Linked DNA regions of Homo sapiens: region 2 is linked to region 1. Evidence: fine-mapped expression QTL. A gene starts in region 1. The other region holds a variant in brackets. All regions are shown on one strand. Distances are between the middles of the regions. Region 1 holds the start of P2RX6 (purinergic receptor P2X 6). Region 2 holds the start of LRRC74B (leucine rich repeat containing 74B).

Region 1 (2,896 bases):
CTGCCTTGGCCTCCCAAAGTGCTGGGATTACAGGCGTGAGCCAGCACGTCCAACCCTGGCCTGGCTTCTTGAGTGGCCCCTTTTTCCACCCCAAAACCTCCTACACATCCCTGAAAGTCCTGTCCAGGTGCCACTCCTCTGTGAAGCCCTTCCTGAGAACCCGCAGCCGTCTCTGGCATCACATGCTTCTCTCTCGCACACACTGGCTGCATGGCGGGTGTTCAGGCTGTCAGTGGGGAAAGGACTTGCGCCCCCGTCAGCAACATCAGGGCCCCCACCTGAGGTGGCTTCACGAAGTCGGCCACATCCCACAGCCGGTTTCCAAGCTCCTTGATCTGAGTGACGGAAACCCCTTTGAGTTTGGTGATGATGGAAAACTGGGGTTCCAGGTCCCGCTCCTGGTAGCCTTTTTTGGCGAGGAGAGCCCACCTGGGGAGGAGAAGTCGGGCAGTGTGGTGTGTCCCCAGCGTGTAGTGACAGGGGCGGAGCTGAGCCCTACATGCTCAGTTCTCCCCCCACACCCTACAGGCTCCCGGCCCAACATCGAAGGCCCCACCTCCTCTCTGGCCCCACTTCCCACTCCAGACCCCCTGAATGAGACAGAAGCTCCAGCCATGCATCAGAGAGCCAATGCCCTCAGACAATCACCTTCACTAGCCAGCACCCACCCCCAGCCTGACTAGATCCAGCTTCCCCCTTACAGACTCTCCTGACCCGAGATACAGCTGGTGGTCTCTCTGGGGGCCTAGTGCTCCAGCTCTCACAGATGTTAAGGACTATGTCATGTGCCCCCTGGGTGGGGCCTGGGTGGGGGCCTGGGAAGGAGGCAAGTGGACACACAGGACAAACACACAGCTTGTTCTTGCTCTCCTGTCTTGTATCGCCTAGCTCTCCCCAACCCCGTCCCAATCTGCCCCCTTCCACTCCAGCCCCTAAACAGCCCAACCCTCAACTTCAACCCAGCAGGACCAAGCCCCACCCCCCACCTCTTCCCTTGCCCCTCCAGCCTGGCCAAAAGCTCTTCTCTCTTACCCTACCACATAGACCACGATCCCAAACTGCAGCAGCCTCTGCAGGGCGCCCACCCGCCAGTTCCTGGTCATCACATACTTCTCCGTCTTATAATCCAGAAGCCCCCAGCCTGTCGTAGCCCCTGGGGAGCCCATGCTGCCAGCTCCTGCTAGCTGCGGGCACATGAGTCAGCATGGCAGCTGCAGCCGCAGCTGAACAGGAGGCAAAGCAGGGCCCGAGCCAGGCCAGGCCAGTTGCTGTTAAAGGGACACTTCCACTAAAGCAGGATCCAGATCCAGCCTCCAACACCCAGCCCTCAACCCCTAATCCCAGCTGCCCTGCACCTCCCACCCTCCCTACATTCCCTTTGCTGGGCCCTGGCACACAGAGAACAGCAGCAGCTCTGTCCCTGCCCTCTGGCCTCACTTCCTGGGGTGGGAGTGGAGGTGGTGGGAGGGTGGAGACGGACAGCTGTTATCAGTGCTGTGAGAGGAGGGCCTGAGGGCAGCAGCAGCAGGGCGGGGAGGGTGTTGAGGAAAGCTTCCGGAAGAAGTGACCTCTAAGCTGACCCTTGCAGATTTCTGAAGTTCGACAAGCAGACAAAGATGGGGATGGAGGTTCCTGGTGCAGGGAGCAGCGTATGCAAAGACCAGAGCATGCAAGATAACTAAGAGGCACAGAGTGAGAGGGTGACCTGGCTCTGCGAAGTTCCCCAGGCCCTCCTGAAAAGCTGCCCCCGCCACCTTCCCCAGTGCAGTGAGGACAACACAAGTCCTGGAGTCAGGCGTGTTTCCCAGTCCACGAAAGGGGGGCGATGCTGGAACCCCCTAGGAAGGCAGGGAGGATGCCCACAAGGCGCCCAGCCCAGTGCATAGCCCGTGGCGCGTGCAGTTTATCCTCTCAGGCGAGGAGCCTCAGCGCAGGAGAGCCACGGTTTCTACGGCAACCTACAGCACTGGGTTGCCGGGGCGACCGCCGCGGGGGAGCGCGTCGCTAATTGCCGTGGCAGACGCCAGTCGATGGACGCCACACTCGATTGGTCAGCGCAGCCGCAGACTCCGCCCACATCCCCGGGTCGCGCTCTAAGTGAGGCGCCAAGCGGTCTCCGCCTCAGGGTCTGAGGCTGCGAAAGGGGCGTAACGATGAGCGGTTCCTGCCAGAGGTCTGGGGAGGATAAAAAGCAGGAGGAAGAGGCGACGGCGGCCTGTGGACGTCTTGCAGGGGTCCCCGAAGCCAAGCAGGGTCCCAAGGCCGATTCAGACTCCGACCTAGAGACGGAAGGTGCTCGGGGCAGGGGCCAGGCCCGTCTCCTCCCCTTGGGGGCTTCTCCCGCAGGGGTTGTGGGAGGTGGGCTGGCGCCGCCGAGGAGGCAGGAGACCTCTGTCCAGCAGGGCACGTAGCCCTCTGCGGGGCGTCTCCAGCCCCCTGCCCTCTCCTCGGCGCTCCTGGCGGCATCAGGAACTTTACCATGAGAAGGCGCTTCTAGAAGGAGGTTAAAATGGAAAATCCCGCCAGACAGTGCACCAAAGGCTGTCCCGCCCTGAAATGCAATCAGAGCTGGGTTTTCCCAATCCACAGGTAAAACTAATATAATGGATGTATAGAATTTAGAACTACTTCCGGTTTTTTCCCTGGGGAAAATATTCACAAAACATTTGTGGTCTGCAATCAGGTTAAAAGACATAGTGTGCCATTTGTCATCAGACAGGTAGAGGCCTGACTCTGGCAGGATTAGCTACCACTAGCTGTGAGACTTTATGTATTCATTTATTAGAGCCAGGGTCTTGCTCTGTCACCCAGCTTTCAGTGCAGTGGCAGGATCATAGCTCACTGCATCCTTGAACTCTGCACTCTGGTGAGCCTCCTGCCTCAGCCTCCTGAGTCG
Region 2 (2,896 bases), 30 kb before region 1:
AAAACCGAGATAGTTCTAAATTCCATACATCCATTAGCTTAGTTTTTCCTGTGGATTGGGAAAACCCGGCTCTGATTTCATTTCAGGGTGGGACAGCCCTTGGTGCACTGTCTGGCGGGATTTTGCATTTTATCCTGATGCTTCCAGGAGCAATGAAGGGAAGGCAGGGGGCTGGAGGCGCCCCGCAGGCGGGTACGTTCCCTGCTGGCCTTAGCCCCAGCCCGCCTCCCCCAACCCCTGCGGGAGAAGACCCCCAAAGGGGAGGAGTCGGGCCTGCCCCCTCCCCCGAGCACCTTCCGTCTCCAGGTCGGAGTCCCAATTGGCCTCGGGACCCTGCTCGGCCTCGGGGACCCCTGAAAGACGCCCACAGGCCACCATAGCCTCTTCTTTCTGCTCTTCATCCTCCCCAGACCTCTCACAGGAACCCCTCATGGTTACGACCCTCTCGCAGTCTCAGACACTGAGTCGGAGACAGCTTGACCCCGCGCCCAGAGCGCGGCCCGGGATTGTGGGCGGAGTCTGCGGCTGCGCTGACCAACCGAATGTGCCGTCCAGCAACAGGCACCCCCCACAGCCAATAGCGACGCGCTCTCCCGCGGCGGTCGCCCCGGCAACCCGGTGTTGTCGGTTGCCGTAGAAACTGTGGCCGGCTTGTGCTGAGGCTCCTCGCCCGGGCTGATACACTGCATGCGCCACAGACCATGCACCGGATTGGGCGCCTTGCTGCGTTTATCCCCCTGCCTCCCCTAGGCGGTTCCAGCATCGCCCCCCTTTCATGGAATGGGAAACATGCCTGACTCCAGAGCTTGTGTTTTCTTCACTGCACTTGGGAATGGCTTTTCAGGAGGGCCTGGGGAACTTCGCAGAGCCAGGTCACCCTCTCACTCTGTGGCTCTCAGTTCTCTTGCATGCGCTGGCCTTTGCATACGCTGTTCGCTCCCCTGGGAACCTCCATCCCCATCTTTGTCTGCTTGTTGAACTTCAGAATCTGCAAGCGTCAGCTCAGAAGTCACTTATTCCTGAAGCTTTACTCAGAGCCCCCCCGGGGCTGTTGCTGCCCTCAGGCCGTCTTCTCACAGCACTGATAACAGCTGTCCTTCCCCATCCTCTCACCACGTCCACTCCCACCGGAGGAAGTGAGGCCAGAGGGCAGGGACAGAGCTGCTGTTTTCTGTGTGCCACCAGGGCCCAGCAAAGAGAATGTAGGGAGGGTGGGAGGTGCAGGGCAGCTGGGGTTAGGGGCTGAAGGCTGGGTGTTGGAGGCTGGATCCTGCTTTAGTGGAAGTGTCCCTTTAACAGCGGCTGGCGTGGCCTGGCTCGGGCCCTGCTTTGC[C/T]TCCTGTTCAGCTGCGGCTGCAGCTGCCATGCTGACTCATGTGCCCGCAGCTAGCAGGAGCTGGCAGCATGGGCTCCCCAGGGGCCACAGCAGACTAGGGGCTTCTGGATTATAAAACGGAGAAGTATGTGATGACCAGGAACTGGTGGGGGGGCGCCCTGCAGAGGCTGCTGCAGTTTGGGATCGTCGTCTATGTGGTAGGGTAAGAGAGAAGAGCTTTTGGCCAGGCTGGAGGGGCAAGGGAAGAGGTCGGGGGTGGGGCTTGGTCCTGCTGGGTTGAAGTTGAGGGTTGGGCTGTTTAGGGGCTGGAGGGGAAGGGGCCATAATGGGACGGGGTGGGAGGTAGGCAATACAAGACAGGAGAGCAAGAACAAGCTGTGTGTTTGTCCTGTGTGTCCACCTGCCTGCTTCCCAGTCCCTCCCCACGGCCCCACCCAGGGGGCACAAGACATTGTCCTTAACATCTGTGAGAGCTGGAGCACTAGGCCCCCAGAGAGACCACCAGCTATATCTCCGGTCAGGGGAGTCTATAAGCTCGGAGCTGGGTCTACTGAGGCTGGGGGTGGGTGCTGGCTAGTGAAGGTGATTGTCTGAGGGCACTGGCTCTCTGATGCATGGCTGGAGCTTCTGTCTCGTTCAGGGAGTCTACAGTGGGAAGTGGGGCCAGAGAGGATGCTGGACTGGGAGCCTGTAGGGTGTGGGGAGAGAACTGAGCATGTAGGGCCCAGCTCTGCCCCGTCACTACACGCTGGGGGGACACCACACTGCCCATCTTCTCCTTCCCAGGTGGGCGCTCCTCGCCAAAAAAGGCTACCAGGAGCGGGACCTGGAACCCCAGATTTCCATCACAACCAAACTCAAAGGGGTTTCCGTGACTCAGATCAAGGAGCTTGGAAACCGGCTGTGGGATGTGGCCGACTTCGTGAAGCCACCTCAGGTGGGGGCCCTGATGTTGCTGACGGGGGCGCAAGTCCTTTCCCCACTGACAGCTTGAACACCCGCCATGCAGCCAGTGTGTGCGAGAGAGAAGCATGTGATGCCAAAGGTGGCTGCAGGTTCTCAGGAAGGGCTTCACAGAGGAGTGGCACCTGAACAGGACTTTCAGGGATGTGTAGGAGGTTTCTGGTAGAAAAAGGGATGGGTTGAGAAACCAGGCCAGAGAAACTGCATTTCCGAAGGCTGCCAACAGAAAAGAAGGGAGTGTTTGAGACTAATGGCTTGAGCTTGAGAGTGGTGTGGGAGGGGTGTGGTGGGGCCAGGGCGTGGAACTTCCTGTAGCCCTGCTCCCTGACCTGGGGCACCTCGGTCAGGTGCTCCTCCTCCACCCTTCTCAGCTGCATTTTCCTCTTCCCTCCACCCAGCTTATCCACAGCCTTAACTTCCACCCACCTCTGCTCCTCTGATTCCCAGGGTGTATGTAGCCCCAGTGAACACCTGCCCAGAGCACAGCTGTCTTCCAGGTGCACACTCATATGTCCAAAGATCAATTATTTCCCTCTCCTGGCATGGCCTCTGTGACATCCACTAGTCATGATGGCTGTGACATCCACTAGTGCCTCAGCC

Evidence for each region.
Region 2: its variant is fine-mapped to the expression of P2RX6 in fibroblasts (GTEx, PIP 0.90).

The regions. Positions count from the first base shown.
Region 1 is chr22:21,013,475-21,016,370 of GRCh38, reverse strand. P2RX6 (purinergic receptor P2X 6) reads right to left here and starts at 1,206. Exons shown (of 12, transcript NM_005446.5): 1 at 1,033-1,206; 2 at 279-429. The coding sequence starts at 1,196. It also overlaps the pseudogene TUBA3FP. RefSeq lists an enhancer at 2,177-2,326.
Region 2 is chr22:21,043,523-21,046,418 of GRCh38, reverse strand. It overlaps LRRC74B (leucine rich repeat containing 74B), which reads right to left and starts at 473. Exons shown (of 10, transcript NM_001291006.2): 1 at 294-473. The coding sequence starts at 432. It also overlaps the pseudogene P2RX6P. The variant C/T (reference allele first, on the strand shown) is at 1,334.